Linked DNA regions of Homo sapiens. The protein of the gene in region 3 purifies or fractionates together with the protein of the main gene of each other region. This does not show direct contact. Each region holds a gene or a part of one and is shown on either strand. Other genes may lie near its edges.

The links. Proteins that work in one complex are often made in the same cells at the same time.
Region 1: the proteins of THUMPD2 (region 3) and DUS2 fractionate together in Homo sapiens (co-fractionation; one large-scale study listed by BioGRID). This does not show direct contact.
Region 2: the proteins of THUMPD2 (region 3) and TPX2 fractionate together in Homo sapiens (co-fractionation; one large-scale study listed by BioGRID). This does not show direct contact.

Annotation. Positions count from the first base shown.
Region 1 is NC_000016.10:68,056,987-68,062,174, reverse strand, and holds part of DUS2 (tRNA-dihydrouridine(20) synthase [NAD(P)+]-like), read right to left. Parts: intron 1,110-5,188; coding exon 1,062-1,109; intron 1-1,061. UniProt on the Homo sapiens protein: Catalyzes the NADPH-dependent synthesis of dihydrouridine, a modified base found in the D-loop of most tRNAs. Specifically modifies U20 in cytoplasmic tRNAs. Activity depends on the presence of guanosine at position 19 in the tRNA substrate.
Region 2 is NC_000020.11:31,776,493-31,781,680, forward strand, and holds part of TPX2 (targeting protein for Xklp2), read left to right. Parts: intron 1-994; coding exon 995-1,146; intron 1,147-2,320; coding exon 2,321-2,492; intron 2,493-5,188. UniProt on the Homo sapiens protein: Spindle assembly factor required for normal assembly of mitotic spindles. Required for normal assembly of microtubules during apoptosis. Required for chromatin and/or kinetochore dependent microtubule nucleation.
Region 3 is NC_000002.12:39,768,693-39,773,880, reverse strand, and holds part of THUMPD2 (U6 snRNA (guanine-N(2))-methyltransferase THUMPD2), read left to right. Parts: intron 1-2,240; coding exon 2,241-2,376; intron 2,377-3,761; coding exon 3,762-4,171; intron 4,172-4,689; coding exon of another isoform or gene 4,690-4,836; exon of another isoform or gene 4,837-5,188. UniProt on the Homo sapiens protein: Catalytic subunit of the THUMPD2-TRM112 methyltransferase complex, that specifically mediates the S-adenosyl-L-methionine-dependent N(2)-methylation of guanosine nucleotides, most probably at position 72 (m2G72), in the U6snRNA of the major spliceosome.

The sequences.
Region 1 (5,188 bases), on a different chromosome or scaffold from region 3:
GCCAGGCGTCGTCGTGGGCGCCTGTAATCCCAGCTACTCAGGAGGTTGAGGCAGAAGAATTGCTTGAAACCTGGAGGCAGAGGTTGCAGTGAGCTGAGATTGTGCCACTGCACTCCAGCCTGGGTGACAGAGCAAGACTCTGTCTCAAAAAAAAGAAAGGCACATTATACAGGTGCACTATAGATAGAGTATCTCTGGCTGCACATGGGAAAAACGAGAAGGCATGTAGCCAGCAAGCACAGTGGTCTTCCTATGTCCCAGAGACAGTGGGGCTGGAGGAACATGCAGGGTTGGGCTGCTGGCACAGCAACCATGCAGCTCTCATTGGCAATGATGGCAGCTCTCATTGGTGATGCCTAAGTCCCAAGTCGCTCTAGCCTCTGGGAAGCAGGATGAGGCTTAAAGCCCAGACAGGGAAGTAGCGATAGAGAATGAAAAGGAAAACAAAGGAGCTAAAAGGAAAGAGCTGGCAGACTGGGAGAGGAACACAAACCTGTCCCCAGGGCCTCATTAAGCTAGCCTACAGAATCACCAAAGAAAGGGGAACAGAGAGAGACTAACTTCAGCTTGCCTCCTCTGACCCTGGCCCGGGCTTCTCTCCAAGGGCTGGGGTAGACTCTTTCAGGACATAGGGGACCCACTGCTCCTCTCATCAAGCCCCCTGGGAGAGGCCAATCCACCCACACACATACAAACACATATGGCCACTGAGCCCGTCCTCACCACAGGTGGGCTGGCCTCTGCTCTCAAGACCTTCCCAGAAGGGAGACAGGAAATACAGAGGAGGTTCTCTGTGAGTCCTCAGGACCCCTGGCTCTTCATTGACATGTCTCTTGCTCTGGGCTTTTTAGGAACATCAAGGCTGCTGTAGGCTGGCTCGGGGGTTCCCAAACTTAGCTGCATGTCAAAATCACTGGAAAATTTTTTGGAAATCGCTAGGCCTCAGGGAGAGAAACTGGGTGGACATCAGTAAATCTGGTATTGGTGGAAGGAGGCGTTCTAGACAATTCTAGTTTGGAGCTGTGTTTGAGGACCCCTGCTTTCACTCGTGGAGGACTTACCTTCTCAATCTTGTCAGGGTCTGACAGCAGGGCAGCTCCCATTCCTCCCTAAGGAGAAACACACAAAAGGTCTTCTTACATCTGGGAGACACTATGGCCCTCTCCATGGGATGGGGTCTGGCAACTGAGCGTCACCCCGGCACTCACTTCCAAGGGACCAAGGCCCACTGGCAACCGGCACTTCTTTTAAACAAGTAGGAGGGCAGCAGTATCTGTGCCCATAACATCTGGGACTGAAGTGTGATAATTTTTTTTCTTTTTTTTTTGAGACAGATTCTCGCTCTGTCACCCAGGCTGGAGTGCAGTGGCGCAATCTCGGCTCACTGCAACCTCCACCTCCCCAGTTCAAGTGATTCTCCTTCCTCTGCATCCTGAGTAGCCAGGATTGCAGGCATGCACAACCACACCTAGCTAATTTTTTAATATATTTTTAGTAGAGACAGGGTTTCACCATGTTGGCCAGGCTGGCCAGACCAGAGTGATGACTTTTAAAATGTATAGGCTGGGCGTGGTGGCTCACGCCTGTAATTCCAGCACTTTGGGAAGCTGAGTCAGGTGGATTACCTGAGGTCAGGAGTTCGAGACCAGCCTGGCTAACATGGTGAAATCCAGTCTCTACCAAAAATACAAAAATTAGCCGAGCATGGAGGTGTGTGCCTGTAGTCCCAGCTATTCAGGAGGCTGAGGCAGAAGAATTGCTTGAACCCAGGAGGTGGAGGTTGCAGTGAGCCGAGATTGCACCACTGTACCCTAGCCTGGTTGACAGGGCAAGACTCCATCTCAAACAAACAAACAAACAAAAAAGTCATCATTCTGATCCCCTTGGTAAATCCCACAAATCTATCTAGAGTGGGCTATATAAAACTTATTTTTCAAGACTGCCCACTCCCTAACCCAGGTCTCAGTGTCTTAATAAACTAAATCCCACCATCTCCCAAGCCCTTAAAAAACAATGAATCATCCTTCATTTGAAATAAGATCAAATGTGCCTTCTTCCTATCATACTCAATGCTTGCATAGGCATCAACACCACCAGCAAAGCTACTAAGGTGCACACAACTTACAAACCTTGTCTAGGCCCTTCTCTTCTGCCAGCAACAATGTCCCAGCCCAGACCCATGCCCAACTCTAACCAAAGCCCCAGGAAATGGAAACTACCAACCCACACAACCACTTGAATCTTGATAATAGTAATGGTGGTTGCTTTTTATTGTGAGTTACTGGTGATTTTCCTGCTCTTTTCTGTACTTGTCTATATTTTCCAACTTCTAGACAATGGTATTAATTACTTTAATAATGGAGGAGGGGGATCTTTAAAAATCTGAATCCATTAAGAGTGAGATGAAGGCAAAAAAAACAATTCCAATAAATATATGCTGCCAGTATAAAGATTACATACTAATGAATGCTCACAGAATGTGCTCAGAAGGTGTAAGTTCAGTTATTACACTTTAATTTCATGTTTAAGGATGATAAATTGGAATCAGAGAGAACATTAAACCACCACAGACTCGGCCAGGCTGAGCCTGGATTTTAAAGAAGAATGGGTAGACTGGAAAATCCACCAAGCCTGGACTACATTGGTCATAAAAGAAACCTTGAAGGCCTTGAGGAAGCCCCAGCACTCCCCCTGGCTCCATCTGTCCTTCCACTCACACGTATCCAGCCCTTCCTTATAGAATCACAGGATCTAAAATTCAGTTTCACTGCCCCTTCCACAATAATAGCTTTCTCAACAATGGAATTTCCTTCCTTCCTTCGTTTCTATTAAACTTACTTGCTTTTTTGAATAGGTAAAACATTCAAAATTTGAGAGATTCAAATGGGTAACGAGTAAGAAGTCTCCCTGCCTAAGGAATGGGAAATGTTTCAATCTATACTTTTTTTTTTCTTTTGTTTCTCATATAGGGTCTCACTCTGTGGCCCAGGGTGGACTGCAGTGGCGTGATCTTGGCTCACTGCGACCTCTGCCTCTGGGGTTCATGCAATTCTCCTGCCTCAGCCTCCCAAGTAGCTGGGACTACAGGTGTCTGCCACCATACCTGGCTAATTTTTATATTTTTTGGTAGACATGCGGTTTCATTCTTTTGGCCAGACTGGTCTTGAACTCCTGACCTCAGGTGATCTGCCCGCCTCAGCCTCCCAAAGTGCTGGGATTACAGGCATCGGCCACCAAGCCCAGCCTCAATCTATGCTTTTTATCTGGCTTCAATTTTTGAACCATGAGAACACAGCAGATATTCAGCTAGTATGTACATGTGTGGCATATTGATTGGTGTCTCTTCTGACTGATCAGTGCCAGTGCTGTGCCAGTTAATTATTTTCAGTAGCACCCCTGTAATGGGAATTTACTACCTATGCATAACCAGATAAAAACTTAAGTTTCCTTCCCCAGAGGAAATCAATGTTACTAGTTTCTTCTGTGTCTCTCCAAAAATCTTCCCTGAATAAACAAATAAATATATATAATCATTCCCTATCCTCCTTATATAAATGGTATATACCACCTTACCCTGCCTCCAGATCATTTTAACTCTGCTCCTCACATAATTTAGGAACACAAAGAAGTAATCAGAAAACAGCAAAACCACCGGGCACAGTGGCTCACACCTGTAATCCCTGCACTTTGGGAGGCCGAGGCAGGTGGATCACGAGGTCAGGCGTTCAAGACCAGCCTGGCTAACATGGCAAAACCCCGTCTCTACTAAAAATACAAAAAAAATTAGTTGGGTGTGGTGGCGGGCACCTGTAGTCCCAGCTACTCAGGAGGCTGAGGCAGGAGAATCGCTTGAACCCAGGAGACGGAGGTTGCAGTCAGCCGAGATTGCACTGCTACACTCCAGCCTGCACGACAAGAGTGAGACTCCATCTCAAAAAAAAAAAAAAGCCCAAAGATACCTAAAGTCCAAGTCCAGCTGATCTTTTACCAACCAAGGTTTTCGATCCTGCAGTCTGCTTCTTCTTCATCATCTCCCACTCGACAAACCTCTGGTCAAATCGGGCTACTCAGGCCTCCCTGTGTCTACCTCATATTCATCCCCAGGCCCCTGCTTATACCACACCCTCTGCTTACAGGGTCCTAAATCTCAGCCCAAGGACAATATTTCCCTATCAAATTCCAAGTTTAAAGGCTGCCTTTCCACTCCCTTCTCTGGGCTACCATAGTCTGATCTCTTCTGATACGACAATGGGAACATTTACACTGCATCCACTTTTTTTTTTTTTTTTTTTTTGAGACAGATTTTCGCTCTTGTCACCCAGGCTGCAGTGCAGTGGCATGATCTTGCTCACTGCAACCTCCGTCTCCCAGGTTCAAGCGATTCTCCTGCCTTAGCCTCCCAAGTAGCTGGGATTACAGGCACACACCACCACGCCCAGCTAATTGCTTGTAATTTTAGTAGAGACAAGGTTTCACCATGTTGGTTAGGCTGGTCTCAAACTCCTGACCTCAGGTGATCTGACCACCTCAGCCTCCCAAAGTGCTGGGATTACAGGCATGAGCCACCAGGCCTGGCCTTTTTTTTTTAAACTTTTGAAAATTTTTATAGAGACAGGGTTTCACTCTGTTGCCCAGACTCATCTCAATCTCCTGGGATCAAGTGATCCTCCTGCATCAGCCTCCCAAATTGCTAGGATTACATGTGTGGGCCACCACTCCCGGCCTCCTCTCTTTTTTTTAAATGTATGTCTCAGTTGTTTTCCCTTTTTTTTTTTTATAATCCTCCTCTGGGCTTTCTGGGATATGTGTCTCAGTCTTATTCATGAAAAGACACAGCCCTGTCCCCTCTATTTTTCTCTGTACCTTTGCATTGTTTTATTACTTGGGCATGAGTTCTCTCTCTCTCTCTCTTTCTCTCTCTCTCTCTATATATATATATGTATCTATACACATACACAATTATATACATTTATATATGTAATATATATTTATTATATATTTATTTTATATACTACATATATTATATATTTATATATTTATTATATATTTATATATGTAATATATAATATATGTAATCTATAATTATATATTATATATTTATAACATATATATTACATATATATATAAATATATATTACATATATTTATATGTATTATATAATTATATATTATATATTTATATATTTAT
Region 2 (5,188 bases), on a different chromosome or scaffold from region 3:
TATATTGGTACTTAAATATATCGGTACTTTCTTTCTTTTTTTTTTTTTCTGAGACAGAGTTTTGCTCTTGTTGCCCAGGCTGGAGTGCAGTGGCGTGATCTCCGCTCAACACAACCTCTGCCTCCCGGGTTCAAGCAATTCTCCTGTTTCAGCCTCCTGAGTAGCTGGGATTACAGGGGTCCACCACCACGTCTGGCTAGTTCTTTGTAGTTTTAGTAGAGATGGGATTTCATCATGTTGGCCAGGCTGGTCTCGAGCTCCTGGCGTCAGGTGATCCGCCCACCTCAGCCTCCCAGAGTGCTGGGATTACAGGCATGAGCCACCGTGCCTGGCTCACTGGTACTTTCTTAAAAGTCTGTTCTTGGTCTTAGGGAAAAAAAGGAACTTGGATTGAGACAGAAGATAAAGTAATTGGGCAGACCAGTTTGTTGTTTTCCTATTTTTTTCTAAAGGCAAAGGAAAAGAAAACAGTCAAATCCAATTCACCTGTGGAGGAAAAATATGACTGAGAGAGCTGAAGGGGTCACAGTTCTGCTTTGCTCGGGCATAGAGTTGTTATTGGTGGAGTCATAACTATAAAGTTCTCCTTACTGGATTGAAAAAGCACCCCTGGAGTTTATAGGATTTTCCTCTTAGAGATGCTGAGTTAACTGTGCTTTCAAAGTCAATCCATAGCTTTTCTTATCAAAAGTATTCCAGTTATTCTTTTTCTCCATAGCTATGACCACACCTAGGAGATGGGATTCTTCTACCCTGTGCTACTACTTTTTTTTAGTTTGCATCTGACTGAAAGGCCTCAAACCTAATAGTACTCAGTGAATATGACACATATATTAGTGTCCCTGAGGACTACTTCAAGTTTTGGGTTACAGGTAGATAGTAAGCAAAGTTAGATCCATGGTGACAGAAATAGCAAAAGGACTGGAGTAAAGGGGATTTACTGGTGTTCCCTATCTTAATGTTGTCTGTATGTTTTACTGTGTTCATCTCTCAGGGCAACCTGTGAAGAAATCAGTGAGCCAGGTCACCAAATCAGTTGACTTCCACTTCCGCACAGATGAGCGAATCAAACAACATCCTAAGAACCAGGAGGAATATAAGGAAGTGAACTTTACATCTGAACTACGAAAGCATCCTTCATCTCCTGTAAGTTGATGGACTAAATGAACATTTCTGTTACTAATATTCATTTAGGATTTTACGTGTAGCATTTGTGGTCACTGTTTATAATAGTATAATTGAGAAAAAAAACCTTGTGTCTATAAAGTTGTGTAAAATATAACAGATCTTTTTTTTTTTTTGAGATGGAGTTTCACTTTTGTCGCCCAGGCTGGAGTGCAATGGCACGATTTCGGCTCACTGTAACCTCCGCCTCCCGGGTTCAAGTAATTCTCCTGCCTCAGCCTCCCAAGTAGCTGAGATTACAGGCGCCTGCCACCACTCCCAGCTAATTTTTGTATTTTGTAGAGACAGGGTATCCCCATGTTAGCCAGGCTGGTCTCAAACTCCTGACCTCAGGCGATCCACCTGCCTCAGCCTCCCAAAGTGCTGGGATTACAAGTGTGAGCCATCATGCCTGGCCAATATAACAGATCTTATAGGAAAAATAGGGTTGGGGCAGACCAGTCAAATCTCATGCAGTTTTGTTACCAGAGCACCAACAAAATCAGTAATAATCGTTAAGTAAAAATGCTAGTACTAATAATCTCCACTTGCATTTGTAGTCAGTATCATCATTTTTTGAAATTAGTTATTTGCATTCTTAAACCCTGAGGTTATGCTTCTTTCTTTGAGATACAGGTCCTTGAAGGGTTTTGCTTCCAATTAGAGACCAGTTTTATCAAAATTACTGGTCCAAGGAATAGGAATAGGCTTCTTCATCAGTCTCTTTAGGGGATGTATGGAGAGATTCCACTGATTCAGGAAGCTGCCTGACCTGATGCATACCCAGAGGCCCAATCAATTTTTTTTTTTAAAGTGGAGTTGAGGGTGAGATTTCTTTGCAGTGCTTTTTGTCTTCAATTCTAAGATAGCTTACTCTGGATTCCTTCAAAACATTGACATGGTTGGGGGGAAATTACCTATGTACTATTCCAGAACATAAGATTTGTTAAGTGCTAGATCCTTTCTTCCATTTTTAATTTTTTTTAATGAGAACAGATTAGTTATAACCCTTGCTCAAGGACTGACAAACTTCAGAATAATAATCTTGGTTTTACACAGGCCTTTTTTATTGATCCTCTGTGCCGAATATGTGGCTTATGGTAGATGTGAGCTCTTCCGTGACATTTCATTTGGGGAACAACTTTTCTCTTTACAGGCCCGAGTGACTAAGGGATGTACCATTGTTAAGCCTTTCAACCTGTCCCAAGGAAAGAAAAGAACATTTGATGAAACAGTTTCTACATATGTGCCCCTTGCACAGCAAGTTGAAGACTTCCATAAACGAACCCCTAACAGATATCATTTGAGGAGCAAGAAGGATGATATTAGTAAGTTTCCTACCAGTATCACAGTTGGATGGAACCTCTCCTACATTCCCTCTGCTTACATCTTAGGCACAGATTTGTCTTTAGCTGAAATCCTAGTTTTTCAATTAAAGTATGGCGTGTGACTATGCAGACAACAAATGTATCCTTCAGAATTTTTCAAACCACCCAGCTGTCTGTCTTATACCCATCAACCGTCTTGATCCTCCTCATCAATAATTGGCCAAGGGGAATGAGTTAAGGTAACCTGAGATGTCATTACACATCCTTAACGGACATTTTTTTGCCATGTGTCAAAGTGTCACATTGCATTTAGTTACCTATAGAAAATGAAGGCATTTCATTCATTCAAGGCTATGTGCTTTTTATTCAGTGGTCCACCAAAATTTTTACTACTACTAACCAGGCACACTGTGTTAGGTATATAGAGGTAAATAAAATAGACTTGGTGCTACTCAACATCAGGTTTCTAATTCAAGTTTCAAAACTCGACATCAAGTTTCAAAAGCCTTTACCATAATTTGTAGTGACCTATTTATCTCTGTCATTAGAGATACACTAATTAGTTCTTTGCATTCTTAAACTGTCATTAGATAAACAGGTCACTACAAATTATGGCAGGGGATTTTGAGGAGGAGGGAGGTGCAAGAGTCAAAGGAGGTGGGAGATAGGGAGAGCATGTCTGAATGTTGAGAAGTCTCGTCAGAGATAAAGAAGCTGAAGGTACGAGAGAGAGGAGATAACTAATGGATTAAGTCCCTGAGCAGGCAGGTATTGGAGGGATACTTAGCACAGGTGGAGTGAGTGTTCTTTAAAAGGAGGATGGAAGAGTGGGAGGAATGGGTGCAAATACTGGGGGAGTTTGTAGATTTGGTGGTGAGCAGATGAGCGGATTCTAATGTAATAGTTTCTATCTTTATGGAAATAATTTCTGCAAGAAGGAAGATGAAATCTGAAGGGTGGAGGTGGTATTAAATAGTTGTTGGGAGTATAGGGATAGTATTCTGGATAAAGCAGAATGTGGTTGTTTTACCTTTGAGGATCTCTAAATTTTTTATATCCTTGCATAGGCATTTTTTTTGAGACAGAGTCTCGTTCTGGGTGTCATCACCCAGGCTGGAGTGCAGTGGCGCGATCTCGACTCACTGCAACGTCCACCTCTTGGGTGCAAGAGATTCTCGTGCCTCAGCTTCCCGAGTAGCTGGGATTACAGGTGTGTGCCACCATGCCCAGCTACTTTTTGGATTTTAAGTAGAGACCAAGTTTTGCTCTGTTGGCCAGGCTGGTCTTGAACTCCTGGCCTCAAGTGATCCGCCCGCCTCAACCTCCCAAAGTGCTGTGATTACAGGTGTGAGCCACTGCGCCTGGCCAAGTACAGCATTTTTTAATATTATTATTATGTTCTAGTGGCCAAAATGATTTTGTTAGATTTTATAGTATGAAAATAATGAAATATTCTTCTTTATTCTAATGGAAATTTAAATATTAAGCATAACTTTTCAAATAATATATGACTCAGAGTCTGATATGTCCTGCTTTCAGAATACTAGTCCTGGCAAAAGGAAAGAGAAATTATATTATGCAATTTTTATTTAAAACTTTGTACAGTTACAGCTAAATAATGGTTACATGTATCTTTGAAACATGGCTTATTTCTAAAATAGATTTGGTTTTGATCTACCACTGTTATGTGACAAGACCTAAATTGAAAGATTCATTCTATATTAGTTATGAAAATTGACAAGGTTTCACTGGCCAGGTAAATTAATATTTTCAATGAGTGGTGGTGATGTCTTAATATTGATGCTTTAACATAGTTTTTAACTTTCTCCATTTGATTTTCTGTAAGATGTGGTCTTGATGCTTTTATATTGATTTCATAAAATTGGGAGTTTTCACTTGGTCTTCTTTTGTTATTTATTTATTTATTTATTTTCCTTCTTGTTTTGCTTTTTAGAGACAGGGTCTTGCTCCGTCACCCAGGCTGGAGTGCAGTGGCGTGATCATGGCTCACTTCAGTGTCCAACTCCTGGGCTCAAGCAATCCTCCTGCCTTAGCCTTCCAAGTAATTGGGACTATATATAGGTGCATGCCACCATGCTTACCTAATTTTTATATTTTCTTAGGAGACAGGGTCTCATTATGTTGCCCAGGCTGGTCTTGAGCTCCTGGCCTCAAGCAGTTCTCCTGCTTTGGCCTTCTAAATTGCTAGAATTACAGGTTTGAGCCATTCTGTTCAGGCTTTACTTGGTCTTTAGGAAGGCCTTATATCTTTTTTTTTTTTTTTTTTTTTGAGACAGAGTCTCGCTCTGTCGCCTAGGCCAGAGTGCAGTGGCGCTCATTTGGCTCACTTGGCTCACTGCATGCTCCGCCTTCCAGGTTCATGCCATTCTCCTGCCTCAGCCTCCCGAGTAGCTGAGACTACAGGCGCCTGCCACCACGCCCGGTTAATTTTTTGTATTTTTAATAGAGACGGGATTTCACCGTGTTAGCCAGGATGGTCTCGATCTCCTGACCTCGTGATCCCCCTGCCTCGGCCTCCCAAAGTGCTGGGATTACAGGCGTGAGCCACTGTGACCGGCCAGGAAGGCCTTATATCTTAAAGCTGGAATAAGCAAAAATTTTTTGTGTTAATAACAAGCAAAATAATTGGCATTGTCAATAGAAAGTATAGGCCTGGCCAGGCACAGTGGCTTAAC
Region 3 (5,188 bases):
ATTCTACAAGAAATGTAGGCCTTATGATAATTCGTAGAATAATGTTGCTGCTTTTGGTTTTGAGAATGTATAATTCTTAGAATAATGTTGCAGTTTTGGGTTTCAAGAATGTATTTGGCATTTTACTGCACCAATATATACTATTCTTATGATTTGATGCTCTAAATAAACTTTTTGGGTCCTCTTAATTAACTTAATAGTCGTGTTCTTTTTGGAAACCACTTGCCCCAGGGGGAAATATATATATTTTTAAAATATAAATATATATATATTTTTAAAATATAAATATATATATATTTTTAAAATATAAATATATATATATTTTTAAATATAAATATATATTTTATATATGTGTGTGTGTTAGAGAAAGCTCATCGGATAAAATGCTTCCCTTGATGTTTGAATAAGAAAAGAAGATCTTTGTACAAATAAGTAACTAAATATCTAGATCACTGGCTACTTAGGTTAAAGTCACTGGTCTAGATGTTTGCATCATTTTACTTGTTTACAGAATTTGAAACTTAAAATCATACATTTTCAGTAAAATATTTAGTTCGTTCCCCCAGAATCTTAGTAAAGTATTTCATCTGTTAAATTGTTCTATGATGGCTTTAGTATCAACTATATTCTTATGTCAGGTAACAAAATCTGAATTTTTGATAATTTACTTTTTGAAACTTTGTTTTCAAGTTTCTAAGCATTTTGAAGTATATACTTTAGTTTTGGGAAAATGTCACCTATGTAATGAGAAAGAAGTAAATTCTAGAAACCGGAAGTTCTGGTTTTGGTTACTTCACTATCCCCTTATATATTGATTCCTAAACATTCTTTTCATTCCCTGCTTCCTCCCATAATGTCATTGTCTGTTCCTCCATCTATTTTGGTCAGTGCTTTGCTGTCAGCTGTTTGAGTTTTAACTGTGCCAATCTAGCACTTCCTCAGGAGAGATTCTCTTTCATCAGCCTGGAGTAGCAACCCCAGAAATTACCATTCCAAGAGCTTAATTAGATCTTGACAGATCCAAAACAAGCATAAACCCTTGGAGTTCAAGTACCCATGGATGGTAGCTGCCTTAACACACAGGAAACCCCACATTCCCTGGTGTCTGTGTTCTAGGAGATTATTTAGAACCATGTTATTCAATTGGTGGCCACTGCTAAAAAGAGAATTCCAAGAAAGCCCACATCCATCCTGGACTTAAGAGGGTTGGGTTGACCCTAAAAGAGTTAAGATTCCACTGGTATTGAGCACCATTTGTCACAGCATGTTAGGCTTCCTGTGAGTCAGTGCTCTTTTCATTTTCCTTCTCTTGCCACATATCCATCCTGTCTCCAAAACCTGTTTCTGTTTGATGCATATGTCTTGCTTCTATTCATTATCTAGTTTCTGCAGCCAAGTATCTCATCATTTCTACCTTAGTAACCTACTTCTCCCTCTAGCATCACATTCTACACTCAGTCCTTTATGCCTCTTCTGGAGTAATTTTTTCTGCCAGCTAATTCAGTGCTGTCACAGTTTTCATCAAAAGTCTATAATGGTTGACCATTACCATTCGTGGTACTCAAAATTTCATGACCATTTGTCAAGCTGGCCTAAACTACTTTATCCATCCACCTGACACTATCAATCAGCATAATAAAGCAAATGTTGCTTACAGTTTACTTCAGCCAGGTTTTCACCCCCACTTCCGCATCTGCCCCTTGTTCTTTTGTTAGAATCCTTCTTCTCAAATCTTACAGGATTCTTTCCCAAGACTCTTTGTAATGTCGGCTTTCATAGTCATTGCTACTTAGTGTACTTACAGCTTGTCAGTGCATTATAATGTTAAAACTTTTTAGTTTTCTTCTGGATTTAATTCAAGTTATTGTCTTATAAATCTTATGTTTTAATGTGTATGTCAGTGTGTGTCTGTTATTATTCAGGATATATGTTTTATGCTTCCTGGTAGCCTACAGGTAGGTCTTCAATAAATATCCATCTTGGGCTAGACACCTAATTTGTCCAATACATTATACCTTTCTTTTGTCTACTTTTGGTGGTGATCGAATCTACCTTAGAGGGTGGTTATAAGGATAAGGAGGAAAATACTTATTCAGTGTTCCTAGTACAGAGCCTGACAAATAGTAGATACTTCAGAAATGGTTATTTTTATTTTTAATTTAGATGCTATATCTTGAGGGAAAAAATATGGTTTTTTCACTGACACTGGACTACATTAAAAGCTGTTTTTCTATTTCTAGGTTGAATATATTTCAGGAAAGGTTTTTTTCACCACCTGTTCTGATTTGAATATGTTGAAGAAATTAAAATCTGCAGAAAGATTATTTTTGCTGATTAAAAAGCAGTTTCCACTTATTATTTCTTCTGTAAGTAAAGGTATGGCATATTCATATGCATGTTGCTTTTACCCACATGATACATTGTACTCCAACATTTTCTGCTTGATAATATGTAGCCATTTTACACTTTAATATTCATTGACATGTGTGGGATCATTAATTATGTATTTTTCTGTATTTCCTGAATATTATCACCTGATTGTAGTAGAATATTTCTTCTCTTTGCAACCTGCGTGCTGCCTTTTTAATGAGATTTTAATGTCCTAAGCCACATTTCTTCTTTGAGAATTATGATCAGGTACCTTCTCTAGAGATATATATGGTCAGTTGCATTTATTTGGATTTAGAAACATGAACTAATCCAAAATGCATTCTTTTAATAGTAAATCAGTGAAAATCATCACCTTGTAAATTTTAACTGTGTGATATAATTGGAAAAATACTGCATAGTAAAAATTTATATTTCTAGGACCTTAAATGTTTTCGATAAACTTATGCCCACTTACCAAGCATTAGAGGTAAAGGGGGCATAAGAGATTCCTTGTCCACTCTCTAAATTTTATAAATATGCTGCTAAAACAACATATGGATCTTGATAAAAGCAGCAAAACATGGTCAGACACTGCAGGATTAAATGCTGCCGTAAACTTCAATTTGAATTACGTAAGAGATCATGTATTTATAGCCTATAATAAACTATTTTAAGAAAGATGCAAATGGCAAGAAATCAAGACCAAGCAGAGAAAATTGTTTTAAAGCAAATCCCAAAGTATTATACTGTGGGATCAATATAATTCCTCCTAGTACTCTACACACATTCATCTTAAAGAAATACAGTAATTTTGGATCATCTTGATGACTGTGGTTCATCAAGAAGAGATTAAACTTTGCTGAGCATACTGGCAGTATGCTAAGCTATAAATGGGTTGTGAGTTACTTTATGGAAACACATTATAATATACTTATTAATATGGTGTGGGCTAAAATGTAACAGGCCCAAGATTCAGCTCCTCTGTTTCTGAGCTGAGTTTTTCAGTTTATTTTTTTCTTATAAAAACTTAATTTTTATAGGGAAGATCACCATTATTTCAAAGATTGATAAACACTCTAGGTCTATGTATATATTGAAGAGATACATATATTACCATAGCACAAATAATCTTTCTAGGGTATTATATGGTAATTCTATAGGAATTTTAACACAATACGGATGCTATATATGCAATGTAAGAATGAACTTTATTCTGCACAATATTCTTATGGTAAATGGAATATGAACTCCAAATGAAAGTGAAGTTATTCGTGTAGCAATTTAATAAAACTTAATTCAAGGAAATAAAGGTAATTGAGTTTGAGGGTGATGATTGTAATAGATGGTCTTTAAAGCTTCAATAGAGGATCAACAAGATTTTTCTTATTTAGGAAAAATATTTAATGAAATGCAAAGACTTATAAATGAAGATCCAGGAAGTTGGTTGAATGCCATTTCAATTTGGAAAAATCTTCTTGAACTTGATGCAAAAAAGGAAAAACTTTCTCAGAGAGATGATAACCAACTAAAAAGAAAAGTGGGAGAAAATGAAATCATTGCAAAGAAATTAAAAATAGAACAAATGCAAAAGATAGAAGAGAATAGGGACTGCCAGCTGGAAAAACAAATAAAAGAAGAAACTCTGGAGCAAAGAGATTTTACCACTAAAAGCGAAAAGTTTCAAGAAGAAGAATTTCAGAATGACATAGAGAAAGCAATTGATACTCATAATCAGAATGACTTGACTTTCAGAGTATCTTGTCGCTGCAGTGGAACTATTGGAAAGGCCTTCACTGCACAGGTATGCTTGCATCCTAAAGTGGAGTCTGTCGCCCAGGCTGGAATGCAGTTGCACAATCTGGCTCACTGCAACCTCCACCTCCCAGGTTCAGGTGATTCTTTTGCCTCAGCCTCCTGAGTAGCTGGGATCACAGGTGTGCGTCACCACACCCAGCTAATTTTTGTATTTTTAGTAGAGACAGGGTTTCACCATATTGGTCAGGCTGGTCTGGAACTCCTGACCTCAAGTGATCCAACCACCTCGGCCTCCCAAAGTGCTGGGATTACAGGCGGGAGCCACCATGCCTGGCCTGGGGGTCCCATTTTTTAAAGAATTAATTATTCTTTAGATTTAAAATGAGATGCAAACCTCTCACAGAACAAATAACTAGCCGCAGACAATTAGTTCTTATGGAATTAAATGTCTTTAAAACTACATTTTCCTTTTAATTTTTCCTCAGATGTTTAAGAGGAATGGTATGCCATTCCAAGTAATGACTTTCTTATACTTTCTGCCTAAAAATTTCCTTAAATCTACAGATGTCCTTTGTATTTGGAAATCCTGATACCATAGTCCTCAGCTTTTGGGGTTTCTCTTCAGTTCAGCTTTGTGCTTATTCAGTGGCTACTCTGCACAGGTCCTGTACATGGGATTGTCACCAGGACCTAGACTGCAAATGCACATGAGGTCTCAGCAATGTAGAGAAGAGCGAACACCACAAACTGTTGCCATCACCAGACCTCATCAGTTGGCCCTTACAAAGTTCAGTGATGTTAAAGGCCATTGGTCTGAATACTTTATCAACCTTAAAATCAGTCAAACCCTAAAGGGTGAGTCTAATGATACTAATCTGATAATTTTTAAACACATAGGCTTATAGTAGCTGACATAGTTAATCTTTCAGCTTGCATCTATTTCCTGAAACCCAGAATGATCATATTTATCAGGTCATAATCTAGTTATTTCATATACCTAAAATTACAAGGATAGAGATTATGCATGAGTAGACATTAATGCCATGGGGTGTACTGGGGGCTA